Regions from separate parts of the Homo sapiens genome. Here all the other regions are linked to region 1. The links come from fine-mapping of genetic effects on gene expression. A gene starts in region 1. Each other region holds a variant in brackets. All regions are shown on one strand. Distances are from middle to middle.

What was found.
Region 2: its variant is fine-mapped to the expression of PHC1 in whole blood (INTERVAL, PIP 0.97).
Region 3: its variant is fine-mapped to the expression of PHC1 in whole blood (TOPMed, PIP above 0.99).
Region 4: its variant is fine-mapped to the expression of PHC1 in whole blood (TOPMed, PIP 0.92).
Region 5: its variant is fine-mapped to the expression of PHC1 in lymphoblastoid cells (TwinsUK, PIP 0.95).
Region 6: its variant is fine-mapped to the expression of PHC1 in whole blood (TOPMed, PIP above 0.99).

What each region holds. Positions count from the first base shown.
Region 1 is chr12:8,911,191-8,916,617 of GRCh38, reverse strand. PHC1 (polyhomeotic homolog 1) reads right to left here and starts at 2,109. Exons shown (of 15, transcript NM_004426.3): 1 at 1,791-2,109. RefSeq lists silencers at 1,658-1,947, 2,018-2,067, 2,118-2,227 and an enhancer at 4,424-4,976.
Region 2 is chr12:9,075,968-9,081,394 of GRCh38, reverse strand. It overlaps A2M (alpha-2-macroglobulin), which reads left to right. Exons shown (of 36, transcript NM_000014.6): 23 at 1,218-1,301; 24 at 1,580-1,756; 25 at 2,064-2,151; 26 at 3,538-3,694; 27 at 3,975-4,049; 28 at 4,459-4,639. It also overlaps a transcript of KLRG1 not described here. Among named protein-coding and RNA genes, the nearest start is that of A2M-AS1, 14 kb to the right of the region's middle. The variant C/T (reference allele first, on the strand shown) is at 3,065.
Region 3 is chr12:8,887,828-8,893,254 of GRCh38, reverse strand. No RefSeq gene overlaps it. Among named protein-coding and RNA genes, the nearest start is that of PHC1, 24 kb to the left of the region's middle. The variant C/T (reference allele first, on the strand shown) is at 2,925.
Region 4 is chr12:9,038,799-9,044,225 of GRCh38, reverse strand. It overlaps a transcript of KLRG1 not described here. Among named protein-coding and RNA genes, the nearest start is that of LINC00612, 24 kb to the left of the region's middle. The variant C/T (reference allele first, on the strand shown) is at 2,515.
Region 5 is chr12:8,935,543-8,940,969 of GRCh38, reverse strand. It overlaps PHC1 (polyhomeotic homolog 1), which reads right to left. Exons shown (of 15, transcript NM_004426.3): 12 at 4,006-4,114; 13 at 3,644-3,794; 14 at 2,910-3,141; 15 at 1-1,665. The coding sequence ends at 1,511. M6PR (mannose-6-phosphate receptor, cation dependent) reads left to right here. Exons shown (of 7, transcript NM_002355.4): 7 at 1-609. Among named protein-coding and RNA genes, the nearest start is that of M6PR, 11 kb to the left of the region's middle. The variant C/T (reference allele first, on the strand shown) is at 3,038.
Region 6 is chr12:8,982,310-8,987,736 of GRCh38, reverse strand. It overlaps a transcript of KLRG1 not described here. Among named protein-coding and RNA genes, the nearest start is that of KLRG1, 4.5 kb to the left of the region's middle. The variant C/A (reference allele first, on the strand shown) is at 3,055.

The DNA.
Region 1 (5,427 bases):
ATGAAAACACTGCTAAGAACCAAGCAAAGAGGCAGGAGATGAGAAGAAGAAATATTCTTCCAAAGCAGCACTAAATGACAATAAGGTTTTTACTCATTCTTTTTTTTTGTTTTTCTCTTTTGTTAAGCTACACACTATTTTCTCTACTTCTGAGGCACTGGGCCACTAGAAATATCAGGTCACCAAAATATTATCTGGCTTAAGAATATAAACATCAAACCAGAATTTCTGCTAAGTGTTGTCAACAGTTTCATTAGGGTGAATGGACTGGTCTTAGGGATTGCATCCAAAACAAACAAACAAGCAAAGTATCAAACTGCTTGGCCTTGGCAATAAAGCTGAGGATATTTCTTATTATCTCATTCCCAGTATCATCCAATCACACTATTATCCCCCCCCAGTCTTTAGTTTCATTTAGGACTAGCAAATGTCACTGCAAACATGTATATTACCCAAAAAGTACATAGGAAAAATCATATCAGCTTCAACTAGTCTACCTTCTCCCCACATCTTTTGCCAAAATATCAAAGCACTAAACAGATACAGACCCATGAATCCTCATTATCAGCATGTGAAGAAAAAAAGTGGGTAAGGATTAGAGGCAGCACGGCACAGTTTTATAGATTACTGGATTTAGTTCACTGGACTCAGAGACACGAGACCCCTTTGCTAGGTATAGAGAACATAATTCCTACATTCACATGTGAAAATACAAACCGTATGACCCCTCGTCTTCCCAAACCTGAATTCTGATTAATAATTTTTTTTGGATTGTGAACTAGAAATAAAAATGTAAAGGGACCAACTTAAAAGTCTCAATAAAATCAAGGGAAACTGCCACCAAAACCAGGATTCCTGGATCCCGGGCACATAAATGTATTCATTTGTGATCAACATTATGACTACAAGATTAAATATAAAAAATGGAGACAACAAACAGTTTGGGCAGCACCAGGTATCAAAATTTTCCAAATTAAACTGGAAGACAGTGAGAAGCTGATCCACAGATGCCCCCAGAGTAGCTAAGCCATGGTCATCTTAAAAGGTAGCATGTGGGCATACATGGGGTTGGGTAGGCGCACAGACCTACCGAAGGGAGTTAGAATGGGACATTGAGGTGGACTTAGCATTGGGCCGAGAGTTGGAGAAAGTCAATATCCCTAAGCACGAAACTCTTATCATGCAGAAAGGATGGGACATAGGAAGGGGGACGGGAGAAGGGGGTGGTTCAGGGAAGACTGTGCCAAAGACACGGTAATAATCAAGAGAACAGGGAGTAGACGCCCAAGGGTCCTCGTTCTATATAGAACCTTGATGAAAATGATGTTTCAAAGAGAAATCAAATACACTGGGGGAAGGGGGTGGATCCAGTGGTGCGCCGGGAATGAACTGACCCAAGTGAGCTGGGACATGTGCATACAGAGAGCAGAGGCAGAAGTCAAGGAACTGGAGGCTGAGGAACCCAGCGGACCACGAAAGCAGGGAGATAACTAGACAGCATGCTCGGCTGGAAGGACCAAAGTCAGAGAAGGAAAAATGAATAAGAAAATGAGCAGTCAGAGGCAGCTAGGGTGACGGACAGACAGCATGAAGCGCAGCAGAATGAATAGCCAGAAGACTCGGACAGGCAGAGCCGAAGGACCGCAGAGCTCAGCGCCGGAGGTAGGCAGGGAAAGCAACTGGGGGAGGTACCTGGGGCGTTACACAGATGGAGGTGGCTGAGGATACATCCCCGCGCAGCCAAGCCCCCAGAGGTCCTGCCCCTCCCCGGCCCTCGGTCGCCCGGTTACCTTCTCGCCTGGCTGTGCACCCAAGTCTTCCCCGGGGGCGTCCACCTCATGTGCCGGGGTCCCCAGTCGCCAGGCTGGGCTGGGGGCTCGCTCGGCCTCCGCGGCGGGCTCCCCTCGCCTCCTCCCCTTCCTGGAGGGGCGGGGGCGCCGAGGGCGGGGTGGGAGGCGCCCGGCGCGACCGCGGCTCCCCGCCCCTCCCGCCGCTCCGGGTGCGGGCCCGGCCGCGGCTCAGCCAGGCCTCCGGGGCTCGCTCCGGGCCTGTCACTTCCTGCCCGGCCGAGAAGGTGGGGGCCGCAGGCCAGGGGCTGCGGGCCGGGCTGGAGGAGGGGGCTGCGGGGAGGTGCTTCCGGGGCAGCCGGACCCCCCCCCCGCCGTCCCTCCGCCTCCCCTCGGCGCCCTCCGCCCCCTCCCTCCCGCGCGTCCCTCGTTTCCTGCCGGCGCCCGTTGCCATGGCGACGCAGCTCCCGGGCCTCTGCGCTCCAGGCCCAGGGGTTTTTTCCTCTCTTGCTCTCTTTCTCCTCTTTTTTACCCCCTTCTTTCTCTCCGAGTTCTGCTCGCCGGTTGGAAGGACGAAACTAAGAAAGTGCTGGCCTCTAGTGGGGAACGCACCTCTCGGAGAGGAGAGGGAGATGGGAGAAGGGAGGGAAGTGACGTGAGACGGGGAGAAAGAAGGTATTTTCTGGAGCTGCTGGGAATAAGGGGTAGAAAGAAAGGATCAAAGGGACCAACAGACAGAGAGGGAGAAAGAGCAAAGCAACGACCCCTAGAGAAACGATAGACTGGGAAAAGAAATGAAGCAAAGGAAAGGAAGGAAAAGGCGAGAAAAACTTTGAGAATGAGAGAAAGGAGAGAGAAGGTTGATTGTTTAATCCCTCACCTCAACTCCAAGAAGGCGGGAAAGAATGCTGCAGAAACAGCTAACCCATTAGGAGTTGACTTCATTTTCAAAGCAGCAACCTAATGTAACTTCCTTTGGATAGCATTTAAGTTTGTCATTTCAGGGATTTGTGTGTGCTTCGATTTCAATATGTATATGAGTTCGAATGACAAAAACGGGAAAAGGCCAGAGTATAACGAGATGTAGAACAATGGGGCTGTCTCTGGGAACACTAAACATTTGATAGGGGAGCCGTTGTCGTTGTATTTATGATATCAACTTACCGGTTTTTAATTACTCTCTCATCGTTCAACATTCAATAAATATTTATAGAGCGTCTACTATGTGCTAAACCGTGGAAGCTTGGATTGCATCAGTGCACGAAACAAAGATAACTGCCTTACTGCCTTCATTAACCTTTACAGAAGGGTCTGGGGGATGCCTCGTGGATTAACAACTGGGATTGATGCCTTTTCTCTTGCTCTCAGTCTTTTCCTAACCTCTATCCTAAACAGTTATTTTCTCTGTCAATCCACTCTTCCTTTTCTCCTTTAAAAGCCCATGCATGGTTTGTTTATAGAGAAAAAAACAGAAGTGTTATCTTTGCTTATAAATTATATCCATTTAGATTTTGCTTTGAGAGAGGAGTATTTGGACTCCAAGGTCTTTCATTTGTGGCAGCCAGATTAAAATCGGAGAACAATTTCTGCCAGGCTTCTAGGAACTAGTCAGACAGGTATGTGAGGGAAGAAACCGGAGGGCAGCCAAAGGACTGGAAAAGCGAAGACACGGGGTATGAGGAGGTGAAAGGGTGTGTTACCAGGCCGTGGATGACAGGCACTGGCTGAGGATGATTTGAAAAGATTCTGACTGGTAGAACTAGTGGTGAAAACGAGGTAAAGCATTCGTTGTTTAATTCACACCTGGATTTTTGGCATGTCAAAGCAGTTAAAGCTTTCTTGCAGAAGTTTAGAAATGGATATCGATTGAGCCTAGGCGGAATTTTCTAGCACCAATGGAAAAAAAAAGCATCTATAGATAATTTTCAGATTATACAACATTAAAGTTAAGAAACATGACTCATGTGCTTCCTTAGTTTCCCTGGGAGAATTATCACTGTTAAGTGTCTAAAGAAGATTTGTAAGCTATAACAAGAATAAGGAATGCAGATATCAGAGGGTATGGACTTGTTTTTCTATAGCCTATGGAACTTGTGTACCAAGAGGGTACATGACCATATCGCATTTCACCCTCCTTACAAATGGAGCAGAATTACCGCTACTGCATATAGTTACATTCCACCCCTAAAGATTTTTTTTTTTTATTTACTAGGTCACCGGCTCCTATAGCTACTAGATAATGTTAGGGGATAAGCGATGAATACTTTTGTTGAGTGCCTGTTATAAATTTAGCCTGAGAATAATCTATCATGAGGCGAGCTATACTGATTATGGGCCAGTAGTTTAATTTTTATATGTAAAGGTGTGTGCTCCATATATCACAGGATTCTTTTCAAGTTCATTTTTCTCCAAGTCAGGCCAGTGTTCTAAGGTCATAGGTCTAAACAGTTCCCACCAAAAAAGATTTAGTATAAAAAAGAAATATATCAACAGCAAAGTAAAGTTATAGGAAAGCCTCCATCCATAAGAAAATCATTTTCATAGACTAAATCAGCTTGAGAGCAGGCATTGAAGAACTTATCTCGGTCTAAACAGCAAAACAATCTGTGTTCCCTAGAGAATACTCAACTTTTTTTTCTTAATTTTTCTAAAGTTTCTCATTTTCATTTAATGACTCTGCTTGAATTAGACTTTTCTTTTTCAAACAAAATGGTTCTTCTGAATGGAGGCTACAGAATGTCTTTACTCTGCATAACACTGAAGGCCATTAGCCTAAACAGGTGAGAAGGAAAAGCATTTAATCCGGTGTATGGAAATGGAAGCCCTCCTGCAAACTTCTCTAAATAAGGAAGGATCCTGGTTTGAAAGGCTGTCGATGTTTGGCAGCAACTGAAGCAAATAGACTAGAAGTTAAGCTAATAGAACTTTTCATATCAACTGAACATTGCTTAAGCATTCCTCAAGCTTCTCCTGTAAACCTAGCATTCTGCAATAAATTGTGAAGGAAGAGATGTCCTTTACCCTAAAGGTGTTAGTATCTTTGGAATGTGTCTTTCTACAAGTAATCAAGTAAGAATGTGTGACCATGTTTTTATGCAAATATGGATAGGAAGAAGTAGAGAAAAAAGGAAATCATAACCTTTACTCTCCCCACCACCAACTGTGGCTGTGAACCACCATACACAGCCCACCTGTGTCTCACTATAATTCTGCATGCCACTTTAAGGTCTAGTTGGGAGAAAATGAAGATTGAGTGGATTTATAGGCTCTTAGATATTTAAAGGAAAAAAAAAGAACTTTAAAACTAAGCCCCTCAGTTTTCAGTGAAGACAATTGAAGTCTAAATGATAAATGTAGAAGAGGGATATTTCGTAATCCCTGGAAAATAGAAAATGTCCAATAAATATTAGTTAACTGAATTAATTTCCTAGATTCTTGCCCTTCTCTCATAGGAAAAGAATATGAAATTAAAAGATATAAAGGATACCTCTCATCTCTCGCTACTAATACCTACCATAGATCCTTTCTTCAAGCAGAAGTTTAAAATTAACATACTAATTGGTTCAGCCCAATATTCCATCCATCATTGCCCGCAAAAGATATAGAAGTACCCCTACATCCTTAAGGAGCATAAGACTGA
Region 2 (5,427 bases), 160 kb before region 1:
TACCTAAATGCATTTATACTTCCACCAGGATACATTTCCATAGTGTTATATTTGCCATCATCTGTTACCATCAAAGTTTTTAATTTTAATTTTTGCCAAAAATTTAGAAAAAAAAATTTTGCTGTTGTTTTAATTTATATTTTCTTAATTACAAGGATGACCTTATTTTTGCATGTTTATTAATTGCCTTTATAATCTTTGGCTATTTGTCTTTTGAGTAGTTTTTTTCTGACTCAGTTGTATGACACTAATTCTTTATCTGTTGAATATGTTGCAGATATTTTCTTTCACTTGGTCATTTTTTTAACTTTGTTTATGGCATCTGTTTTTTTACAAAAGTTTTAACATTAATTTTATGAGAAAGGGAAGATAACTGCTACATTTTTCATTTGTATATAATTCACCAATACTAAAATTGTAGTAAATGTATGTTCATCAGTAGCAGTTATTTTATTTTCAGTGAGTCAAGCATTTTATTTTGCTTAGCCATTTGTCCTTTAACTATGCTTATGGCTTTTTTTTAAGAAACATTTTAATATGAATTTTATGAGGAAGGGATTCAGTATGAAAATAAATACCATACTTCTCTCATTTTCATTTCATATAATTTACCAAGATTAAAATGGAAGTAAATGTATGTTCATGAGTAGTAATTATTTTATTTTCAATGCATCAAATACTGTTCGTCTTCACTTCCTTACCCTCAATTTTCTAGGTTTTCCATAAAAATACTATCTTTGTATATGAAATTTGAAGAAAGAACATAGCATTATTATAGAATTCAGGACCTTTTGTGGGTAATTTTACTTATGTATACTTATAGGGCTTTGTTGTTGGTGTTTTCTCCATACAACTGTTGAGTAAGGAAGTTGGTGGTGGGAACTAAATAGATCATCTTGTGATAACCGTCTTGTGTCAGCCATCAGATGACAGCAACTGAATCACAACATCACCAGGCTCTTACAATTTGTTGTCTTATTTGGCATGCGATTCTACATAAATTACTGAAAAGATCATTGAAGAAGAAATTCTGAAAATCACAGGAAACCAGTAGCCCATTTTTAAGATATTTATATATTACTGTTGTATTAAAGGCGGACAACTTTTCAGGAGGAGTTTAGGTATAAGGCATAGTCCTAGCTTCTGGGTCATAGAGCTGTTTAGAAAGATATAATGCAGAAATAATTTTCATATGTCTGATTTGCTTATTTCTCTAGGTGGTGAGGTTTCTGAAGAATTATCCCTGAAACTGCCACCAAATGTGGTAGAAGAATCTGCCCGAGCTTCTGTCTCAGTTTTGGGTGAGTCTCCAGCCCCTAGTGGATCCGGGCATTAACAGCTTCTATTATACTATTTTTATTTCCCATAAATATTTACTAAAAATAATACTATAATTTTAACTTCTTTCTTCTCTTCTTCTTTGGGCTTGTTTATTGCTTTCAATCATACTTCTATCCCTGGAAGAATCATCCTTCCTAAAAATTCTCAATTTCTAAGCTCAACTAATTATTTCTGCTTAATGACTTTGATAGATGATAATCTCCAAGCTTTATGACTTCCCATCTCTCCCATTCTCTAGGAGACATATTAGGCTCTGCCATGCAAAACACACAAAATCTTCTCCAGATGCCCTATGGCTGTGGAGAGCAGAATATGGTCCTCTTTGCTCCTAACATCTATGTACTGGATTATCTAAATGAAACACAGCAGCTTACTCCAGAGATCAAGTCCAAGGCCATTGGCTATCTCAACACTGGTGAGTGATTACTTGAGTAAGGGAAAACTTGAATGTTATTTCAACTGGATTTCCCAGTAGGTTTCAGTTACTTATGAATATTATGATACATTAGCTTAGCTCACTATGATAGCTGCTATGATAGTTAATTTCAAGGAAACTATCCACTCTCCAACCTCCAATAAAATATTTAAGGCTCAGAAACTCCTAATCTATGACAACAAAATTTAAGAAATGTCACAAGAGAAGCCAAGGTACTTTTAGTAATTTCTCCACCCTCAGCATGCACATTAATCCATTGTGCTGTTTCGTTAATCTTCCTTTCCAGGTTACCAGAGACAGTTGAACTACAAACACTATGATGGCTCCTACAGCACCTTTGGGGAGCGATATGGCAGGAACCAGGGCAACACCTGGTAAGGAAAGAACAATTTTTTGAGCTTCTTTTTGTGTGCCAGCTCTTTTACATGTATTACCTCAATTATATTCACAGCAACACTATCAGATATGTATTATCAGACCGATGGTTTGTTATACTAGATAAATCCACCAAGATTAGCAAGGTAATCAGAAGAAAACCTGATATCCAAATACATGTTATGTTAGGCTTGTTTCCAAAATGGATCCTATTAATAATGTACCAAGGTTTTCTTTCTGAAATGGCTATTCTTTCTAAAGTAGCTACCATAACCATGAGTTTTAAAATGATATTGCCAGTGAACATATATAACTTCCAGATAAACCATGTTAACTTCAGCTTATATTGTCACATTCTAAGTCATTCAGCTTGACTTGGAATGAATTCATTAATAAGAGGAAACAATTGAGAAGGAAACAGTAATATAAAACATTTTTTTAAATCCCTAAAGTAAAGCAATATTAAAATTTACTGCATGTAAGAGCTGCATGTGAGAAGATTCTGTCATCTGCAGAAGGAAATCTCTAAAGATAAGAGAGATTTAAAGCCTTACTCAAGTAACTAACAAAAATAAGTACATTCAAATTACTTGAATGTAAATTTGTTCAACCATTGTGGAAGACAGTATGGCGATTCTTCAAGGATCTAGAACCAGAAATACCATTTGACCTAGTAATCCCATTACTGGGTATATACCCAAAGGAATATAAATCATTCTACTATAATGACACATGCACATGTATGTTTATCGCGGCACTATTTACAATAACAAAGTCATGGAACTAACCCAAATGCTCATCAATGACAGACTGGATAAAGAAAATGTGGTACATATACATCATGGAATACTATGCAGCAATAAAAAGAAATGAAATCATGTCCTTTGCAGGGACATGGATGAAGCTGGAAGC[C/T]ATCAGCCTCAGCAAACTAACACAGGAACAGAAAACCAAACACCACATTTCTCACTCATAAGTGGGAGTTAAGCAATGAGAACACACGGACACAGGGACAGGAACAACACACACCAGGGCCTGTTGGGAGGTGTGGGGTGACGGGAGGGAACTAAGCGGATGGGTCAATAGGTGCAAGAAACCACCATGGCACACGTATACTTATGTAACAAACCTGCACGTTCTGCACATGTATCTCGGAACTAAAATAAAATTAAATATACTAAGACTCCCTGTGGCAAAGAGAGAGTTAGCAAGGAAATACTACATCTAGCAGATTAATCAGGCAGACTAAAGATTAATCAAGGAGATAAGCTCTCTAAGTACACAAGAATTTTGTTAGCTAACTCACATCATATGAAGCCTGTTGCTGTGAAGTGGTTATAAAACCATTTTGACAACATAAACATCATGATTGCTTCCTCCCTGGTCAGGCTCACAGCCTTTGTTCTGAAGACTTTTGCCCAAGCTCGAGCCTACATCTTCATCGATGAAGCACACATTACCCAAGCCCTCATATGGCTCTCCCAGAGGCAGAAGGACAATGGCTGTTTCAGGAGCTCTGGGTCACTGCTCAACAATGCCATAAAGGTGAATCATTCTGGAGCTAGTTTTGATTTGTCCATTATGATATCTGCAAGGATGAGGATAGGAAGTGATAATGTGAAAAATTCTAAGGGAAAGCCTCAGAGGAAAATAAAACCTGGATGGCACCAAAAAAGAGGGGATAGAACAAAAGTTGATTGTGATACTTTGCCCTATAGGGATGGATATGGGTAAGGATGAATTCCATGACACAGCAGAATAGAAAGAACTAATCAATAGCATTCTCAGAAGTTGAATTATTCAGATCTCTCTCTCGTATTCACAGGGAGGAGTAGAAGATGAAGTGACCCTCTCCGCCTATATCACCATCGCCCTTCTGGAGATTCCTCTCACAGTCACTGTAGGTACCACCCCATTCCTCTGCTGAAGGAGAGTTCTGGATGCAATGAAACTGCTGACCTGCTGTCTGAAATACTATCCTATTAAAAGCAAAGCATCAGCTTTCTTTCTATGCAATGCCAGTGCTTCCCAGATCTACAGAGAATTTGGTCAGCCCATTAAGAAAGGTTTAAATTTTCCCAGTAATTCCCCTAGGCTATTTACCACCACCACTCAAAAAAGAATCTTAAAGATGTATCTTTTGAATGTGAGAATAACAGATAAAAATAATATTATATCTATTGATAAGAATGAGGAATCGTTGGAAAAATGCGTTTGAAAAACTTCTGTGCTGTGATCCGTGTATTTGCCTGGGAATGCTAATATGCCTGTTTACATAGCTTAGTTCCCTTCTTGTTCTGCCTTCACAGCACCCTGTTGTCCGCAATGCCCTGTTTTGCCTGGAGTCAGCCTGGAAGACAGCACAAGAAGGGGACCATGGCAGCCATGTATATACCAAAGCACTGCTGGCCTATGCTTTTGCCCTGGCAGGTAACCAGGACAAGAGGAAGGAAGTACTCAAGTCACTTAATGAGGAAGCTGTGAAGAAAGGTGAGAGCACACCTGAGATCCTTCTCCTGGCCCATCCTCTGTATCAAGAACTGCATGGCAAAAATCCCTCACTCCTACCTCCTGTGATCCCTGTCTCCTCTCTTCTTTTCTATATATCATATATATTTTGTCCATATTGCATCTTATAAAATCTAGGATTTCTTAATCAAATCAGAAATCAGAAGACAAGAGGCCGTGCAGATGCTTCTCAATTACGATGGGGTTATATCCTGACAAACTCATTGTAAAGTCTAAAAAATCTTAAGTGGGACCATTGTAAGTCAGGGACCATCTCTATAGTATGCTGGTAAGAAGAGCATTCTCTGGAGACTAGCTCCAAAATGTGCTACCTATGTGAGCTTGGGAAAGTCATTAACTTCCTTGTGTTTCAGTTCCTTCATCAGTAAAATGGGGATAATAATAGTATTTACCTCACAGAGCTGTTGTAATAAATGAATTGGTACACGTAAAACACTTAGTAGAGTACATGTCACATAGCAAATCCTATAAAAGTACTAGTTATTACAATTAACATATCAGTTCTCAATATATGCCCAACCCTTACCTGGTACATTATATAACCTTAAACATAAGAAAATAATCATGGAAGTAACTCCTTGAATGAATTCTGGTATTTTAAGCCCATTTCATAAGACCAATAATGTTGACCAATCTACTCATATTCACACAGTACTTCTACATATACCATGGTCTATATGAGCGGTTGAAGAAATAGAAAATAAAATGCAAATCACAAGATGTCCATTAAAACAGTCTACCTTTTTCCT
Region 3 (5,427 bases), 23 kb after region 1:
ATCTCCCCTTACAAGAACAATCCTCCCACACCGCACCCCTCACCTGTCTCATTCCTGCTTATTCTTCATCTTGCAACTTGAGTGTCACTTCTGGGAATTCTTAATTCAGCCCAAAGATTAGGTTAGGTTCCCACAACCTGACTGTGCTTTGTCACATTCATCCCCCTAATGAAGGGCAGGCAGTGTTGCTCTCCCTCACTAAGCTGCAAGCCTGGGAAGGGCAGGGAGTGTGGTTGTCACATTCATCCTGTTCACTACTCAGTGGGTGCCCAACAGATTCGCACTTAATGAAGGCCCCTCTGCTGGCCTTCAGATTTCAGTGCTTATGGAATAATTATTTCTGTCCCCTGCCACTCAGCCCTGTACTCTGCTTTGTGATGGAAAAGAGGAAACCAGGAATAAGAAAATGTGCCCCACAGATTTTGCCAAAACCATAATCTGTTAGATAAATTGCTGAGAGGGAAAACACTAGAATACCTCAAACGGTAATTCCATTCAACACAAAATACGTAAATATACGTACTTTGGGAAAGTACATCACATATCACCACAGAGCAAACGCTGTTGGATCGCCATTATTTAAGGAATATCTCATACTCAGTTTCTGGATTTCTGCAACAACTGGTAAAGGGGAAAATATCACATTTCTTAAATTTATACATGTATAGGCTGGGCACGGTGGCTCACACCTGTAATCCCAGCACTTTGGGAGGCCGAGAGGGGAGGATCACTTGAGGTCAGGAGTGTGAGACCAGCCTGGCCAACATGGTGAAACCCTGTCTCTACTAAAAATACAAAAAAGTTGTCTGGGCTTGGTGGTGGGAGCCTATAATCCCAACTACTTGGGAGGCTGAGATAGAAGAATCACTTGAACCTGGGAGGCGGAGGTTGCACTGAGCCGAGATCGTGCCACTGCACTCCAGCCTGGGTGACAGAGCAAGACTCTGTCTCAAAAAAAAATAAAAAGATAAAAATAATAATAAAAGAAATTTATACATGTATAGTTGAATAAGCACAGAATATCTCTGAAAAGATATACCAGAAACTGAGAATTAGCCAAGCCCCACCCACACACTTTACTGCCTACATTAGCTTGACTTTGCTATTCTACTGTCTTTACCAACAAGACTTTAGTATTTCAGGAAGCCCTTGCCCCAAAAATAAAAGCTGTAATGGGAATGGGTAATGGGTACAAAAAAATAGAATGAATAAAATGTAGTATTTGATAGCACAACAGAGTGACTCTAATCAATAATAATTTAGTGTGCATTTTAAAATAACTAAAAGTACAATTGTATTATTATTTTTTCTTGAAACAGAGTCTCACTCTGTCACCCAGGCTGGAGTGCAGTGGCTCAGTCTTGGCTCACTGCAACCTCTGCCTCCCAGGTTCAAGCAATTCTCCTGCCTCAGCCTCCTGAGTAGCTGGAATTACAGGCGCCCGCCACCACGCCCGCCTACTTTTTGTATGTTCAGCAGAGATGGGGTTTTGCCATGTTGGCCAGGCTGGTCTCCAACTCCTGACCTCAAGTGATCTACCCACTTCAGCCTCCCAAAAGTCCTGGGATTACAGGCGTGAGCCACTGTACCTGGCCTAATTGTATTGTTTGTAACACAAAGGATAAATGCTTGAGGTCATAGATATCCCATTTACCCGGATGTGATTATTACACATCACACGCCTGTATCAAAACATCTCATGTATCCCATATACCTACTCTGCACTCACAAAATGAAATTTTTAAAAACTTTTTATTTCCATAGGTTATTGGGGCACAGGTGGTATTTGGTTACATGAGTAAGTTCTTTAGTGGTGATTTGTGAGATTTTGGTGCACCCATCACCCGAGCAGTATACACTGAACCCAATTTGTAGTTTTTTATTCCTCTCTCCCTTCCCACCCTTTCCGCCCAAGTCCCCAAAGTCCTTTGTATCATACTTATGCCTTTAATTTTTTTTAACTGAAAAAACTTTTTAAAATAAAACTTTTAAATAATGTTATTGTTCATTTCAGGAATATCCAGACAACGTATTTTAAATTGCTTAGCTTTCCAGTACAGTTATCAAATGATTATTCATGCTCCAAAACTTTTTTAAGCCCTCACCTTGCTAAATCATGATCCGTACCCAAACTTAATCAGAGCCCTTCACTGAAAGACCCACCTTAATCCAACCTAGAACCTCATAAATATCCTCCCTTTGCCCTCCCCTCCCAGATGCTGCTCAAGTTTCCGCAAGGCGGTGTGCTCCCTTGCTAAGACATGAATAAACTCCAGCTTTGCCTATCTGTGAGATTTCGGGTGGTGTATTTCAGGGCGCTGACATTTGGCAAAAGTAATAGTATAGGTTACATCCGAGGAGGGAACTGAGAGAAGAAATGTGGAAGGTGTCTCTTAGGACCTTTGAATTTTTACGTGGGCGTGTATTGTCTATTCGAAAATAAATGCTAAAACAAAACAAAAAGTTTAAAAGCAGGACACCATTGTGTAATCTCCTTTCTGACCAGAAGGTGGCGCCTCCACCTTTCCTGGGGCTGGGGAAGGGGAAAGCTGTAGAGAGGGGAGAAAGGTCCCAGTGAAACAACAGGGGCCTACATTGAGAGTGGAAATTTTACCTCCTGGCAAGAAAGGTCCAGAATCTCTCTTCACAATAATAGCTAATATTTATTGAATATATATTAAATGCCAATTAAGATTTTTAAAACAGGCCGGGCACAGAGTCTCAAGCCTGTAATCCGAGGACTTTGGAAGGCTGCAGCCAGTGGACAGCTTAAGTCTAGGAGTTTGAGAAAAGCCTGGGCAACACGGTGAAACCCTGTCCCTATTTTTTAAAAATAAAAAATGAAAGATTTTAAAACAGCATTCTTCTTTTTTTCTTTTCTTTTTTTTTTTTTTTTGAGACGGAGTCTTGCTTTTTTACCTAGG[C/T]TGGAGTGCAGTGGCGTGATCTCAGCTCACTGCAACCCCCGCCTCCCAGGTTCAAGCAAATCTCCTGCCTCCCAAGTAGCTGAGATTACAGGTGTGCACCACCACTCCAGGCTAATTTTTATATTTTTAGTAGAGATGGGGTTTCATCATGTTGGCCAGACTGGTCTCGAACTCCTGAGCTCAAAGTGATCCACCTGCATCAGCCTCCCAAAGTGCTGGGATTACAGGCGTGAGCCACTGTGCCCAGGTTTAATACAGCATTCCTAAGGTAAAATTGGTATACAATAACAGCACATATTTAGTGTACAATCTGATGAATATTAACATGTATTCAACCATGAAACTATCACCATAATCAAGATAATGGAACATATCACCCCCAAAGCTTTCTTGTGCTAATTTGCAATCCCTCCCTTCCTCCCTATCAGTTTTAAGTACTTTACGTAGATAATTTTATCTTCACTACCACTCTTTGAGGTATTATCACTCCCATTTTACCAAGGAGGAAACTGAGGTATAGTTAGGCTAAATAAATTGCCCAAAGTCATTCAGCTAGCAAGATGTAGAGCTGTTATTTGAACACAGGCTGATTGACACTAGATACACACTACATCAGCAATTTTCAAACTGGAGTACATGTATCTCTGGGGTGTACAAAGCCTTTCCAACATGGACAGGGCTGAAATTTCCAGATTTTGACTTCCAGATGCAGTCTCCATCTTGACACTTCACCAAGAATGTTCTCTACGTGTCAAAGCATCTTCTTTCCCCTCTCCCTGCTCACTTTACAAAAGGTTACTGCAACTCTCATTCCTTCCATGGTATGCTGTTCTAGGGCACACACATACACACACACACACACATACCCCCTCTTGACCACCAAAGATAATTTGAAATATTGTCACTTTGTGTAGATAAAGTACTTTCATGAAAAATCTTTTTGGAAGTCAAGATTTATAATTCTTTCAACCAAATTAAAGGAGCATCTAATCAAGTTGAGTGCTGATAAATCAGTTTTTGATGAAAGATTATTATAAGGTTTTGGTATATAACTTGAAAGAGTTCACAAAATTCACTGGCATTGCTAAAGCTAAATGCCTTCTACTCTTATTTATATGAGTGAGATTTCTCAAATAATATACCTGAAGAAATTAAAAATTGGAATACAATTAATCTTGATTCTTGTCTCATTCTAGAAATAAGCAAATTATGGGCCAGGCATGGTGGCCCACACCTGTAATCCCGGCACTTTGGTGGGCAGATCACTTGAGGTCAGGAGTTCGAGACCAGCCTGGCCAACATGGTGAAACCCCATCTCTATTAAAAATACAAAAATTAGCCAGGCGTGGTGGCAGGCGCCTGTAGTCCCAGCTACTCAGGAGGCAGAGGCAGGAGAATCACTTGAACCCAGGAGGTGGAGGTGGCAGTGAGCTGAGATTGTGCCACTGCACTCCAGCCTGGGGGACAGAGTGAGACTCCATGTCAAAAAAAGAAAAAAAGAAATAAGCAATAATCATCTGTGAATGTATGCACTAATATATTATTGGATAATTGAAAAAAATCCCAACCACATTCATGTCATTAGAAAATGTGCTTCTAGTTTTTACTTTTTATTATGTGTAATATTTTTTGGCCAGGTGCAGTGGCTCATGCCTGTAATCCCAGCATTTTGGAAGGCAAGGCGGGAGGATCACTTGAGGTCAGGAGTTTGAGACCAGCCTGGCCAATGTAGTGAAACCCCCTCTCTGCTAAAAATACAAAAATTAACTGGGTGTGGTGGCACGCACCTGTAATCCCAACTACTAGAGAGGCTGAGGCAGGATAATTGCTTGAACCCCGGAGGCGGAGATTGCAGTGAGCCGAGATTACACCACTGCACTCCAACCTGGGCAACAGAGCAAGACTCCGTCTCAAAACAAAAGAAGTGATATTTTTTAACTTCTTATTTTAAAAATGTGTGCTGTTTTGATCCAATATGTCTAATTGTGATGTTAACTCAATCCACAAGAAGCCTTGAATATATTTGAGCCTTATAAAATAAAAATGTTTTGATATCTGAAGTTATAGACATATTTTTATGGCAGAAACTCTGATAAGATGATCAATAAAACTTTTAAGCATAAAAACATATTAAATAAAATTCTCTGATAAAAGTGGATGAAGGCTAGGCATGGTGGCTCACACCAGTAATTCCAGCACTTTGGGAGGCTGACATGGGATGATTGCTTGAGCCCAGGAGTTTGAGACCAGCCTGGGCAACATGGTGAAACCTTGTCTCTACAAAAAATGCAAAAATTAGCCTGGTGTGGTGGCAAACACCTGTAGTTTCAAGTACTCGGGAGTCTGAGGCAGGAGGATAGCTTGAGCCTGGGATGTTGAGGCTACACTGAGCCATGATTGCACCATTGCACTCCAGCGTGGGTGACAGAGACACTGTCTTAAAAAAAAAAAAATTAAATGTTGACCAAAAATATGCAAAAGAATGTATGCTTTTTAAAAATTA
Region 4 (5,427 bases), 130 kb before region 1:
TCTATTTCATCAATTCTAAGTTGTACTTTGTTTACATTTTAAGATCCTTGAAATTGGGACACATATTACAATAAATTAATATCTGCTTCATTTATCTGTTACTGTATAAAAAACCACCCCAAAATCTAATTTGCTTAAAACAACAATTTCATATATTTCACAGTTTCATGGGTTGACATGGCTTACCTGGATGATTTTTCTCATGGTCTTGCCAAGAGTCTCTCATGAAATTGCAGCCAGATGGCAGCTGGGATTGGAGTCACGTGGAGACTCCACTGGGATTCTGAGAGACTGCTTGTTCTCTCTCTCCCTGCATGTAGTCTCAGGACTTCATTTTATGGTCTCTCCAACAGAGTAGCTTGGCTTGTTACATGGCATTTCAGAGCTCCCAAGAACAAGAGCTTCAAAAACTATAGGAAGAAGCTGCAAGATTTCTTTGAATTGGCCGCAGAAGTCATGTATTACTTCCATTACATTTGATTAGTCAAGTACATCATAAGGTCAGCTAGGATTCAAGAAGAGTGAAACAGATTTCACCTCTTGAGGGAGGAGTAGCAAGATCACATTACAAAAGAGCATGTGGTTGGAGATATTATTGTGGCCACCTTTGGAAACACACATTGTTATGAGCTGCCATTTGGCCACAAATTTCATCTCTCTCCCACATACAAAATGCACTTAGCCTCTTCCTCAAAAGCCTCATCTTCTTAAGCATAAGTCTAAGATTTCATCACCTAAATCAGATGTGAATGGAGTCCTTTGGGTGAACTTCCTTAGGTACTACTCCTTGAGCACAGGAGACAAGATATCTCAACCCGAAGACATTTGAACTTAAGAAACAAGATATCAGCCGGATGTGGTGGCTTATGCCTGTAATCCCAACACTTTGGGAGCCCAAGGCAAGTGGATCACCTGAGGTCAGGAGTTCAAGACTAGCCTGGCCAACATGGTGAAACCCCATCTCTACTAAAAAAATACAAAAATTAACCGGCGTGGTGGTGGGCACCTGTAATCCCAGTTACTTGGGAGGCTGAGGCAGGGAGAATTGCTTGAATCTGGGAGGCAGAAGTTGCAGTGAGCCAAGAGTGCACCACTGCACTCCAGCCTGGGCAACAGAGCAAGACTCCATCTCAAAAAAAAAAAAAAAAAGATATCTGCCATGCACACAAACCCAAAAAAGATGGTGAGACAAAGAAAGGATAAGGGCATAAATATTCCTATTCAAAAAAATTGAGAGAACAGGAAGCACATAGCAATCACTCATCATAGCAATTCTGGCTGGGAACACATCGCCATTCCTCCATGAGGGCCCAGTCCTGCAATCATCAAAGTGCTTCTCCATTCCTCTTCCCTCTGCTTTCTGGGTTCTAAGATCTTCCTTTTAAGTTATCTTTCCTTTTCTATAAGACATTGCCCATATTTGCTGGTCAATATCAAACTGCTTCCTGACTATAAAAGTTTGAAGACTCAGAGGCCTCTTTTTATTTTTTTATTTTCAACTGTCTCTCCCTTTCAGTACAAGGCAGCAGAATTCTTTTAAAAGCTGTATGGACTTCTTTTCTATCAATCTATAACCATTCCAGTAAACAAAAGCCACACTGATAAATCATAAGACAGGTCCCTCTCTACCTTTGACTGAGAAGAAAAGTGCTGGGTAACAATGCTCTTAAGTTTCTAAGAAGCCTTTAACAGAAAAGGTCTAAGAAACACGTCCTTGGGATTTTTAGTAGACTTTTTGCCTAGCTGAGAGGGTTCAGGAGGCATTATTTTAAATCTTTCTGAGGTCTACACAAAGGTCTACAGCTGTAATCTTGAAATCTTGACCCTGAGGCCATACTTTTAGTGGCAGTGCCCTGAATTTGATCTTTTGCTCTGTTGTAATTTATTACTTTAATAATCTTTTACTGGAAGAGAATGGAGATGAGAAACAGTTTTGTTTTCAATCCTAAAAAATCTGGCAAAGAAATGTGTTGCCTCTAGATTCTAGTTGAAAACTGAGCAGTTACTTCTTTAGTTCATCTCCATCTTTACCTTATCACATGCAGCTAAAAGAAACGAGCTGGTATATTCAACATCCTAGGTAGATACTTCCTTAGCCACCTTATCACAAGCTGAAGCATTGCTAAACTTTTTGCCACTACATTACACAAGCGACCTTTTTTCTAGCTCCCAATAAAAAATGTGTTCCTTGTCCTTCCAGCCTTTACAAAGAATTTCTTAGAGTCCCTTCCAGATTCTTCTCATCACCTGGTCCCCAAACCAATGCCACATATTTTAGATTTTTGTAAAATCATCAGCCTTTCATAGTACCAGTCTCTGTTTTGGTGATAAATTGCTGCACGCAAACCACTCCAAAACTTAGCAGTTTAAAGTAATTATCATTTTCTTATTTCTCATGGTTCTATGGTTGACTGGGGTAAGGTGAGTGGTCTCGCATGGGGTACCTCAAGCAGTTAGATGATAGCTAGAGCTGGAATTACCTGAAGATTTGATTAGGATGCTGGGATAACTTGA[C/T]CTCTCACTCTCCAAATAGACTTAGGTCCTCTCTACCTGGTCTCTCCAGCAAGTAGATACACTTGTTACAAGGCAGGTCAGGGGTCCCAAGTGCAAATGTGCCAAGAGACAGTAGAAGTTGCCAGGCTTCTATAACCTAGCTCTCCAAGACACACAACACCAGCTCCACAGCACTCTGCTGGTCAAGTGAGTCACAGGGCTGGACTGGATTCAAGAATAGTAAAAATAGACTCAAATTCTTGGAGAAGCAGTATCAAGGACACATGGCAAAAAATCCTGTGGCTCATCAAAATACGCATGTCAAACAGGTGCAGTTTATAGTGCATCAATTACATATCAACCAAGTTTTTTGTTTTGTTTTTTTGTTTGTTTGTTTTTGAGATGGAGTTTCACGCTTTCGCCAGGCTGGACTGCAGAGGCGCGATCTCAGCTTACTGCAACCTCTGCCTCCCAGGTTCGAGTGATTCTCCTGCCTCAGCCTCCCAAGTAGCTGGGATTACAGGCATGAGCCATCTCACCTGGCTAATTGTGTATTTTTAGTAGAGACAGGGTTTCACCATGTTGGCCAGGCTGGTCTTGAACTCCTGGCCTCAGGTGATCCACCCGCCTCAGCCTCCCAAAGTGCTAAGATTACAGGTATGATCCACCACGCCTGGCAATAAAGTTGTTTTTAAAGGGCATGTCTGTTGGAAGATACGCAGTGATGTGCATCTTTGGAAACAGTCTGTCACAGCATTTTGCACAGCTGCTGTCAGGTGGGCAGTGGTCGTGATTCACTTGCCTTTCCCTCTTCATGCATAAACTTAGTTGTCTTCCCATTGACATTCCCATTGAACAACTACAATCTCTCAATGTTTCAATCAATGAACCGTTTAATAAGCAGTTGAAAAAGGAATCTGAATTCTAGTTGTTGTTTGAAATCTTTCAGTGATAAGTTCTTGTAAGATCAAAACATTTTGAGCATGAAGATCTGCAGAATAGTTTTCAATAGTTTGGAAAACAACCCCAGAGACAATAGTGAGGCACCCTTTCAGAAAATGTCCTGTGATGTCACAGACCACACAACCACATATAAAAACAGAAAGTCTGAAAGTGATTCAGAAGAATTACATTCTAAATAAAAGTAAGTTTTAGTAAAATTTAATATCTGAGATGAAGATGGGAGGGAGGCACTGGACAGAAAAGCTAGCTGACATTCCAAATATATCATTGCTATTTCATGACAGGACAATAAATATTTGGGTTGAACAATATGAAAGTGTCCTTCTTATAGATCCAAACCATCAAATGGTGAAAAACCTCCTGATTTCAACCTAATGGGTCCTACAGAATACTAAGGAAAGATTTCCTGACTTGGATAGCCCAACACAGAAGGCGCTTAAACAGAAAAATGGATAGCATGGTATTTATCTGTCAAGATGAGGCGAGAGAAGTTAAATTATATACTATTGTTCGAGGACAGACAAGGCCTAGGAACTTAGCACTGTGTGATTCTGTAATGAGTCTGTGCCATATACTGAAATTATATATTCATGATTATGGACCATTTCAAAATGGTAGCAAATTTACCACTATCCTACTTCTCTCCTACTTTTCAGAAAGTTTACTTTCCTATAATTGAGTGCCTTCTTTTTATTAAGAATCTGAAGTTTTTCTCAGTCTTATCTTCTCTTGACTTTTTCTTTACTAATTAGCCTTCTATTATTGATAGTTCCATTTTCCTTCTTACTGAAAGGTATCATTTCTTTTTTCTCTCTTACTCACTGTCATTCTAGTAGTGTCCATACCTGGCAATAACCTGAATGCATTGCGCAGGCATTTTTGCTAATCAAATAATCTATCTTGGAAATGTACAGTAACAAAGGGAATAATTGAATGGCCACTAAAGAACTATTTGTGTCTGAGTATTATCAAAAGAATGCACAAATTTTTCTAGAATCAAGGTAGTGAGAAAATGGTTTTTCCTCTAGTGATTGAATAGAAGAGACTTTACCCTTGATTGGCTACTAAACAAACAAAGAATCCTGGAAGAGAATCTGTAATCTCAGCACCCTCTGAAAAGTCACTGGACTGACTGCTTTAGCAACTGTCATTAATGGTGCAATTACTGGCATTGACCGAAAGAGGGCAGTTAAATCCTATAATGAGATAATGAGAATAATGTGTAGTAAGACATCAGTTGTTAAAGTGGTGTCATGAGGAAGAAGAAACAGAGGAAAAGGCCATGAACAGAAAAAAAAGTTTTTTAAAAAAGCATAAAATTATACATATGTCAAGAACAAATAAGATCGTTTTGTCAATCCTAAGTTTCTGTGTACACAAATTATTAGAGAAAAATACTTTTTAATCATTCTATTTGTAAAGTCATCAGAGAAGGAAAATACAATCTCACTTTCTAGTATTTCACATACGCAATCTAAGCTGGTTTTCTCATTCTTCTATTCTCAGTAAAAGCATAGAGTAGCCATCAAAAACAACAAATGAGAGAGGACAAAGAGAATAGACGCGGAGGCGAAGAGATAAGCTTTGAAGGTGATAACTAATGTTATATTTAGCAATCGTCTACTTTATACATATGACCAACTTATTGAATGAACAGAATTCATATATTGCAATCAGGAAAGAGCTTTATTCTCCAACCAGAGCCTCCATACCCTTGGACAACTTATCAGACAAATCATTTAGCTCTTCTAATAAATTTAAGCTACTCTAACAGTCTCATTTGACTGAGAAAGTTTAATCCAATCTAAATCAAAATGTTATTCTTATAACCAATTCATTTTTTGTTTCAATTTTTTTTTTTTTTTTGAGACAGAGTCTCACTTTGTTGCCCAGGCTGGAGTGCAGCCCACGATCTCTGCTCACTGCAGCCTCCACCTCCTGGGTGGAGAATCAAGCGATTTTCCTGTCTCA
Region 5 (5,427 bases), 24 kb before region 1:
TGGTAAAGCTTTTCTTACTCCTGGTTCCCTACCAGTATTTCTAAACATGTCGCACTTTCTCCACAGGCATGTGGTTTTGACCTTTTTTTCAATCTTCTAGAAAGGGAACGGAAGCAGAAGTGGGACATCGAGGGCTCTGCTGTCCTCTGCGCTGGGTGTGGAATGCTGCTGCACCTGTCCCTTCTGCTGGCTCAGGGAAGTGTCTTCTTGCCCACATTTCTGTGGGGAAAGGTTTTTAATCCTCTGATGCTTCCATCTTCCTGTTTAGGCCATGTGCCCAGAAACCTGGACTGATCTTTCTTTAATAGTGAACCCCTGGGCCACTGAAGAGTAACATGGCTCCACTGGACACAAAAGAGGGATGGAATCAACAGGCAGGGGGCCTTTTATAAGCCTTAGGAAAAGAAAATGAAACTATTTCATCTTTGGACTTTTCAATACTATTGGAGTGATTTTTTTCTTTCTAAACAGGGAAAATAATGTTACAAAAGCATCTTTTTTGTTATTTGTTTGCATCCCTCCCCCACACCCTGGTGTTTTAAAATGAAGAAAAAAAACCATCACCTTTTGTACAAAAACTCTTAATGATTAAAAAACAAACAAAACATATTGGCCTTGTCATTTGTGTGAAAGTGGGCAAAGACTGGAATAGAGTAAGACAACTGAAACCAATTTTCATCCTTTTACTGAGGAAAAAAATATTTAATATTTTTGTTATATAAGGAATAGTGCCTAAGGCAGGTACTTATACTCCTGACCTCAGCCCCACACACTCTGGTTTTATAAAGCTATAGGACAGAGCAGAGATGGAACTGAAAAACAGGGTAGAAAATAACATAAATTGGAGGGGAACAGTGGGATGCAGAAAGAATGACAACAGCCACATGTGCCCCAGTCAAATACTTTTAGTCCCTGCAGCAGAAGATGCCAACCAAGTCTCTATACTGGCTGGGGATCCTGCCATGGATGCAGGAGAAAAAATTCAATCACAAGGGAGTAAGTGACAACAAAAAGAAAAAACTCTGAGCCACAGCTACACTGGGAGGGGGGAGGACCAGATTTTGCTACTTCTGTCACACAAGCTAGAAAAACCCTACCTCTCCCATTGGGCAGGCAACCTGACATTCCACCCAGTTCCTTGCCTTACCATACTATGTATTCCTCCTCTTGGAGAATTAAGACCTGGGCTAAATGCTCCACTCCAGGATAAGGCTGAGCAGTCCTAGTTCTCTAGACTGCCTCTTTTATAAAGATTGGATTAAGGTACGTGAAATGGTGAGAACTGTAAAGATTTTAAAAAATAAAGTAGAACCCAGAGAAAATGTCAAAGCTGCCGCCATGTAGCACCAGCAACCAATTCTTGCACTTCTCTTCCCTGTCTCAGTAATCCCCTACAGAAGGTTACATGATTGGAACAACTCTTTCTTCCCTGCAAAGTCTGCTGGTACCAGGTTATAACCTGGACAGTGGAGAGTGTCTGCCTTAGGCTGGTTTGTGCAAGAGGGCCACCTTAGGTCTCCTTGAGGACATTTATCTTGGCGCAGATCTTGAGGGCAGGGCCCAGCTTGATGTTCATGGCACTCATAAGATGTTCTTCTTTAAGTAATAAAAGGGCCTGTCCATCAATCTCCTGTGAGCGAAATTCCTCTGCAATCTCTTGGCAGCCTAGAAGAAATGGTGAGAACATGTAGGTAATGCCAGATGATAGGAGAAGGGAAGCTAAATGAAACTGAGGTCTAGCAATGATTAATTCCAAAGTACCTGTCCTAAATTCAGTAATATGAAGTCAGATGGCAAGCTTTAAAAGCAAAATGAAATTAGAAAGCAACTGGTATTTAAAAAATGGCCAGGTGCAGAGGCTCACGCCTATAATCCCAGCATTTTAGGAGACCAGGGCAGGCAGATCACTTGAGCTCAGGAGTTCAAGACCATCCTGGGCAACATGGCAAAACCTTGACTCTACAAAACATACAAAAATCAGCTGGGCATGGTGATGCATGCCTATAGTCCCAGCTACTCGGGAAGCTGAGGCAGGAGGATCATTTGAGCCCAGGATGCGGAGGTTGCAGTGTGCCAAAATTCATGCCACAGCACTCCAGCCTGGGCAACAGAGTAAGACTCTGTCTCAAAACAACAACAACAACAAAACCAAAGTCCAAGACCAAGAAAGGAAAAGCAACTAAATTGTTCAACCACAGAAATAACTTCATTCAAATAGCTTAGAGACAGGGGAAAGGGAGAGAACAGAAATAAAAGCATGTTTTCTTTTATACTGGCAAAAAGATTCTTTGTGATATTTTTGTTTAAGGGCCCAGAATTCAGACAAATAGCAAGAAGGGTAGGGTGATTTTCATTTCCGAAAAAAACTCTTTGTCAAAATTGCATATAGGCTGAGTGCAGTGGCTCACACCTATAATCCCAGCACTTTGGGAAGCCAAGGCAGAAGGATCTCTTGAGCCCAGGACTCCAAGACCAGCCTGGGCAACATAGGGAATCCCTGTCTCTGTTTAAAAAAAAAAAAAAAGAAGACTAGCAAACAAGCCCTCTTTGAAGAGTGGGGCAACAATGGCCACTTAGTTTCTAATACCCTGCTCCACTGAAAAAAAAAATTTTTTCCCCATGGGAGGTATCATAGTTAATTACACAAAAACATTTTATCCAAAAATTTAGTGAGAAATGCAGCTACATCATAAGATGAGAATCAAACACTGTAAAATTGCTGACATTACAGAAGATAATGTCAACCCAGAAAAAAATTAGGAAGTCAACTTGAATATTAGGAGTAGAGCCTCTATATTAGCATTCAAGCTCCTACTGCTTAAAAGTCAATTACTTTCCCTCTTATCAAGGCCCCTGTGGGATGATGTTAAGGAAAACAACCTGGGTTCTGTTGAAGAGAGGGTCAGTACCTTGGAGAGAAGCAATAAACTCGTACACCTCCTCTACACTCCAACGGCTGGGATTACTGGACAGGAACACAGGGTTGATGCCATGTAATTCCGGTGTAGGTGGAGCTGTATTGGGATTCCCCAGGTCA[C/T]GTTCTCCATGCCCAGCTCTTACTGATAAAGGCCCAGGAGATGTTGGAGAGAGTGCTTCATCATAACTGGAATTATCTGAACCCCGGCTAGAGTCTTCTTGACCCTATAGGGGAAAAGAGCAAACCAATGAGGTCAGTGTCAAAGGTTTATTCCTCTCTCTTTCTTCCCAAACCACCCTGGGTTGGGCGTAGAAGAAAAACTCATCTTATCATATGTGAAATAAGCAGCACTTTATTTGCAAATTCCCAAAATCTACTCTCAAAGTCTTTCAAATAGAAACTGTATCACTTCCTTGATTCTCCCCATGACCTAACAATTGATCTAGATTTTCTCTCAAGTACAATTGAGAGAAATTGAGTACAATTGAGTACAATTAACAATTGTACTCAAGTACAGTGTAAGGATTAATGGAAACATGAACCAGTAGTTGGGTAAGAGGTCCGGAGACAAAGGGGGTCAGGATCTCTTGGAATTTGTAGTAATGCAATCAATGTGAAACCAGAGTTCTCATCTCACACCCTCTTACCTGGGCAAATGAATTGCCCTGCAGGGAAAGAAAAAAAGACCCAGTTTAAAGGCATCTGGCTCTACAACAAGCAGCTCACCCGGTGGCACTTGCCCTGAATCTTGGCACGGGCAATGTCAGAGGAGCTGCGGCGGGGTCCACGCCTGCGAACGCGAGCATAGTTGGCTTCTTGAAACTCTTTCATTTTTTTCCTCTTCAGCCGGAACTGATGGCTACAGCTCACATTGTACCTACAGGACAGGGCATATATAGGATGTCAATAGTGCCACAGAAGACCACCCTGCTCTAAATGTGAATTTCTGCTTATGAGCTGATTTGGGGAAGGGAATAAAAGCAAGGAGGGAGACATAAAATATCAGCTATGAGACGATCCTGGGGAAGGGGTGTAACATTAGATGGAGATACCAGTGCTGAGGGCAAGGAGGAGGGTGCCCAGAGTACCTCTTAGCGCAAGTCATGGAGCAGAACCTCTTAGAGCCACGAAACTGCTCTGCGGGGGCGTACTTCCCACAGTACTCGCACTTCAGGAGATTCGCCTTCTTATCTAACTCTAAAAAACAAGGTATTGCTGGACAGTCACCATGGGTTTCTGCTGCCCCTCAGGCAATCATTAGGCTCAGAGCTGGATTCTAAAATTATTCTCAGGGTTCACCCCCAAAAACCTACACAACCTAGTTGAGAATCCCTAAAACGCAAAGTTCAAAACCTAAAATCACGAAGACTTGTCCCTTGAGAACTTTATGACGTCTTCCTAACCTTAAGCCGAACTCTCTCCATTTTAGATGTCTTACTAATTTTATCCTAATTCATACTCTTAGATTTCAGATATGATTCAATTTCTGAGGAGAGAGGAACTACTAATGCCTAGAAAGATATAAGATCCTTCTACCACAAAGATTTCCAAAAGCAGTGGGAAAATCAGTAAGAGTCCTTAAGATAGATTATAAAATCTAGAATAAGGAGAACTGGAAATTAAAGATATAAATGTCCTATTTTAGATCATCTTTTGGAAAAAAAAATTTTTTTGAGACAGTCTCACTCTGTCACCCGGGCTGGAGTGCCGTGGTGCTATCTTGGATCGCTGCAACCTCCACCTCCCGGGCTCAAGCGATCCTCCCACTTTGGCCTCCCAAGTAGCTGGGACTACAAGCATGTGCCACAATGCCCAGTTAATTTTTATATTTTTTTGTAGAGACAAGGTTTCACTATGTTGCTCAGGCTGGTCTCAAACTCCTGAGCTCAAGAAATCCACCGGCCTTGGCCTCCCAAAGTACTGGAATTATAGGTGAGAGTCATCACACTCGGCCAAAAAATACATCTATAGAGTAAAGAATAATTCAAGGGCCAGGCGTGGTGGCTCACGCCTGTAATCCCAGCACTTTGGGAGGCCAAGGCGGGCGGATCACCTGAGGTCGGGAGTTGGCGACTACTAGCCTGACCAACATGCAGAAACCCCGTCTCTACTAAAAATACAAAAATTAGCCAGGCGTGGTGGCGCATGCCTGTAATCCCAGTTACTCGGGAGGCTGAGGCAGGAGAATCGCTTGAACCCAGGAGGCACTGGTTGCGGTGAGCCAAGATCCCACCATTGCACTCCAGCCTGGGCAACAAGAGCGAAACTCCGTCTCAAAAAAAAATAATAATAATAATTCAAAAGATTACTTTAGCTGGATAAATTCCCCTCACCTTATGTAATTCCTTTTCCGTGATTCTACATACTCTGATATATAATATGGTTTCTATATGTAGACAGACTTCATTTTATTCCTACTTTTTTTTGAGACAGAGTCTCGCTCTGTCGCCCAGGCTGGAGTGCGGTGGCGTGCAGCTCACTTCACTGCAACCTCCGCCTCCCAGGTTCAA
Region 6 (5,427 bases), 71 kb before region 1:
ATGAGGAATCTAAAGTAGTCAAACCCATAGACAAAGAAAGAAGAATGGTTACTGAAAGAAGTTTGGAGGGAAAAAGAAAAGGAAGTTGCTTAATGGGTACAGGGTTTCAGTTTTGCAGTGTGATTAAGTTCTGGAGATACGGTACACAACAATGTGAATATTCTTGTATTCACTTGCTTGGACTATCACAACAAAATACCATAGACTAGGTGACTTAAACAACAGAAATTTATTTATATTTTCATCATTCCACAGACTGAAAGTCTAAGATCAAGATGCCAGCAGAGTTGGTGTTTGGAGAGTGCTTCCCCTGTGGGTTGCAGACTTCTCACTATATCCTCAAGTGGCTTTTCCTCAGTGTGTGCACAAGGGAAGAAAGAGAGAGGGCTCTGGTCTCTCTTCTTACAAGAACATTAATCCTATCAGATCAGGGCCCCACCCTTGTAACCTGATTTAACCTTAATTACTTCCTTAAACACTCCATCTCCAAATACAGTCACACTGAGGATTAGGGCTTCAATATGTGAATCTGGGGGAGACAAACATTCAGTCCATAATAATACTTAACACTACTGAATTGTATGCTTTAAAATAATTAAGATCATTTTTTAAAAAAAGGAAGGTGTATTAGTCCATTCTTGCACTGCTATAAAGAAATACCTGAGGCCAAATAATTGATAAAGAAAAGAGGTTTAATTGGCTCACAGTTCTGCAAGATGTACAGGAAGCATAGTGGCATCTGCTTCTGGGCAGGCCTCAGGAAACTTAGTCATGGTGGAAGGCAAAGGGAAATGTCTTACATGGCCAGAGCAGGAGCAAGAGAGACGCGGGGAGGTGTTACACACTTTTAAACAACCAGGTCTTGTGAGGAACTCTATCAGGAGAACAGCTCTAGGGGTATGGTACTAAACCATTCATGAAAAACCATCCGCGTGATCCAATCACCTCCCACCAGGCCCCATCTCCAACACTGGAGATTACAATTCAACGTCAGATTTGGGTGGGGATGCAGATCCAAACCACATCAGAAGGCAACATAGGAATCAGGGGCTCTTTGAAGAAATGGCTAATTCTAGGGCCAGGACAGGGAAAGTACAAAATAAGCTTGGAGGATCTTCCAGTCTTTTAATGTTAAAAAATAAGCAAGTTAAAAAAAAAAAGATGGGAGCATATCAGGACACAGAAACCAACCTGGAAAAGCTCCCAATGGAACAATATGAACAACAAAATAAATGACAGTGTTGAATTATAACACAAGGGGAAAAACTATATAAATCCATACTGATTTAAATAAATAAATAGGTGAGAAGTGACAAATCTTGCTTACAGAAAATACCAAATAATATATGTAGATACTCCCCATTCAGGATGTGGAATTTAACTCTCCTCCCTTTGAGGGTAGTCAGGGATAAGAGACTCACTTCCAAAGAGTACACTATGGATAAAAGGAAATAGTAACTATTCATTAAAGAATCTTGGCAAATACCACCTCAACCACATGAACAGGGTTCACTGCGTGAACCACCAGTGATGAGTCTTGTTGATATCATGTACCCCCTAATATGATGCAATGATAAAAGCACCTAACCAGTAAGGTTTGTTCCCCAAAATCCATAACCCCAGGGTGGTATTATACATATGTATATATTGGTTTTCATCCACAGTTTCTGGCTCCTAACTCCTATGGTCCCTGTTACAGTCCTTTCTTATAATGTTGAGTGTGTCAGGCCCCAAGGGGAAGGCCTCTGGCCTTCTTCTGCCCTCCTTTCATCTGCCTCAAGGCAGGACTCTAATTTTCCCCTGCCTTTCTGATTGTGGGTCTTAAAACCTTCCCCAGAGAGGGTCCTGCCCTTTACTGGGGTGACAAGGGGAGGGGGTCAGCAGCAAGAATGCTGATGTCCTGAAGCTTCCATAAAAACCCAAGAGAACTGTGTCAGAATGCTTCCAGATGACTGAACCTGTGGAGATTCCTGGAGAGCAGCCTTCCCAGAGAGGGCATGGAAGCTCCACACCCCTTTCCCCATACCCTGCCCTACAGTTCTCTTCATCTGTATCTTTTGTAATATACTTTATAATAAACTGATAAACATAAGGGTTTCCCTGAGTTCTGTGAGCTGCTCCAGCAAATTAACTGAACTCAAAGGGGAAGTTGTGGAAATCCCAACTTGAAGCTTATTGGTCAGATGTTCCAGAGGCCCAGACTTGTGACTGGTGTCTGTGGGTGTAGGGGGTGATCTTGCATATTGAATCCCTGAAATGTAAGATCTAACACTATCTCCAGGTAGATAATGTCGGAATTGAATTAGAGGATACCCAGTTGGTGTCTGCTAATTGGTATGTGGGGAACACCCCTACCACATTTGGTCACACAAGTCTTCTTCTGTGTTGATAATTGTGGTAGTGCTGGTGTGAAAGCAGAAGAAAAACACAGCTGAAGAAAGTTTTCCCCTACACATCCAATGTAAACATGCAAAAAAAAAATCAGATAATTCTAAATTGAGTGGTACTCTACTAAATATCTGACCAATACTCTTAAAATATATCAAGTTCACGAAAAAAAAAAAACACTGAGAAACTGTCATAGACCAGAGGAAAACAATAAATATAACAACTAGATGTAATGTGGTATCCTGGATTGGATCTTGGAACAGCAAAAAGAGCATTAGTGGAAAACTGGTAAAATTCAAACAATGTAGCAATATTCATTTCTTACATTTGAGAAATGTGCCATGATTTTTTAAGATGCTAACATTAGGGGAAATGGGGTGAAAGGTATAAAGAAATGTTCTGTGCTATCTTAAAAACATTTCTGTAAATCTGAAATTATTCCCCAATAAAACTTTTCTTCAAAAAAGAGGATACATAACACAGATTAGCCATAATGCATCACATTTAATATCTAGCATACAATAAAATATTATTAGAATCCAAAGAAATAAGAATATATGGGCCATGGATCAAAGAAAAGTCAGTAAGTAGAAAAGAAACTTATGTAACATAGATGCTGGAACTAGCAAACAAGGACTTTAATATCTGCATAAATACGTTCAAAGA[C/A]TTAGAAGAAAATATAGTCATAATGAATAAAAATTTGAAGAATCTCAGAGAAGTAGAAACTACCAAAAAGAATCAAGTGACTATTCCAGAACAGAACAGCATTCATAATTTTTAAAAATAACTGAATGAGGGCCAGGCACGGTGGCTCACAGCTGTAATCCAGCATTTTGGGAGGCGGGGGCAGGTGGATAATTTGAGGTCAGGAGTTCAAGACCAGCCTGGCCAACATGGTGAAACCCTGTCTCTACTAAAAACATAAAATATTAGCCTGGCCAACATGGTGAAACCCTGTCTCTACTAAAAATATAAAACATTAGCCTGGCCTGGCGGCACATGCCTATAGTCCCAGCTGCTCAGGAGGCTGAGGCAGGAGAATCACTTGAACCCAGGAGGCAGAGGTTGCAGTGAACTGAGATTGCACTACGGCACTCCAGCCTAGGTGACAGAGCGAGACTCCATCTCAATAATAATAATAATAATAGCTGAATGAGATTAATAGCAAATAGAAGAGGGCAGATAAAAAGGTCAGTAAACATGAAGACAGATTGCTAAAAATAATCCAATATGAAGAATAGAGGGAAAAAATGGGAGAAAAAAATGAACAGAACCTCAGTGACCTATGAACAATGCCAAATAGTATAACAAAAGTGAAACTGTAGTCCCCCAAAATAAAGGGGACATATAATGAAATCGGAAAGGAATTTGAAAAAGTAATGATCAAATATTCCCCAAATTTGGGATACAACCTACAGGTATAAGAAACTCACTGAATCCGCATCAAGATAAACAGAAGGAAAATCACTCCTAAGAACATAATCTAAAACTAATAAAAACCAAAGATAAAAAGAAAATACTGAAAACAGCCAGAGGAAAATAAATAACACATTAATAATGGGAAACAACACATGAATGATAGCTAAATTCTCAACAGAAACAAAAAAGGAGAAAAGCAATGAGATGTCATCTTTAAAATGGTAAAATGGGCCAGGCACGGCGGTTCACGGCTGTAATCCCACCACTTTAGGAGACCAAGGCACATGGATCACCTGAGCTCACCAGTTCGAGACCAGCCTGGCCAACATGGTGAAACCCCGTCTCTACTAAAAATACAAAAATTAGCTAGGTGTGGTGGCAGGCGCCTGTAATCTCAGGTACTCTGGAGGCTGAAGCAGGAGAATCGCTTGAACCCAGGAGGCCGAGGTTGCAGTGAGCTGAGATTGCACCATTACACTCCAGCCTGGGCAACAAGAGCGAAACTCTGTCTCAAAAAAAAAAAAAAAAAAAAAAGGTAAAATGGTAAGACTGCCAATACAGAATTCTATATCCAGAAAAAGTATCCAATAGAAATGAAGAGGAAGTAAAAATATTTTCAGAGCAGAGAAAATAGCAAATTTGTCATGAGCAGTCCAGCACTACAAGAAATGCTAAAAGAAGTTCTTAGAAAATAAGTATCACTAGATAAAAACATAGATATACAGAAAACATTGAAGAGCAACAGAAATGGTAAATATATAAGTACATATAAAGAATTATATTTATTTTCTTTTCCCATCTTAATTTCTTTAAAAAAAACAGAAAGTAAAACAGATAAGGCAAATCATTTTAAAAAACAGCAAAATGATAAAGCCAGTCTTATCAATAATTGAATTCATCATAAATGGACTGCTGCACCAAATAAATGGCACAAATTGTAAGACTAGAAGAAAAAGCAAGAACCAAAAAGATATTGTCTGTTCTGGCTAGGCATGGTGGCTCACACCTGTAATCCCAGAACTTTGGGAGGCTGAGGCGGGCAAATCACCTGAGGTCATGAGTTCAAGGCCAGCCTGGCCAACATGGTGAAACGCTATCTCTACTAAAAATACAAAAAATAGCCAGGCGTGGTGGCAGGTGCCTGTAATCCCAGCTGTTTGGGAGGCTGAGGCAGGAGAATTGCTTGAACCCAAAAGGTGGAGGTTGCAGTGAGCCAAGATCGCACCATTGCACTCCAGCCTGGACAACAAGAATGAAACTCCATCTCAAAAAAAAAAAAAAAAAAGATATTGTCTGTTCTGGCTGTAAGATATGCACTTTAAATATAATGACAGATTAAAAGAAAGGTATACAAATATATACAATGTGCAAACCAATATACACATTACAGTAAGCACCTGGAGTGGTGTGTTAGTTTCTTATCACTGCTGTAACACATAACCTAACACAAACTTAGTGACTTAACATAACATATATTTATTTTCTTAAAGTTTTGTAGGTCAGAAGTCCAAAATCAAGGTTTTGGCAGAACTGATTTCCTTCTGGGAAAGTCAAGGAAATGTTCTCCTCTAAAGCCTCCAGAAGGAAATCAGTTTTGCCAAATTTCAAATTTCTTGGCTT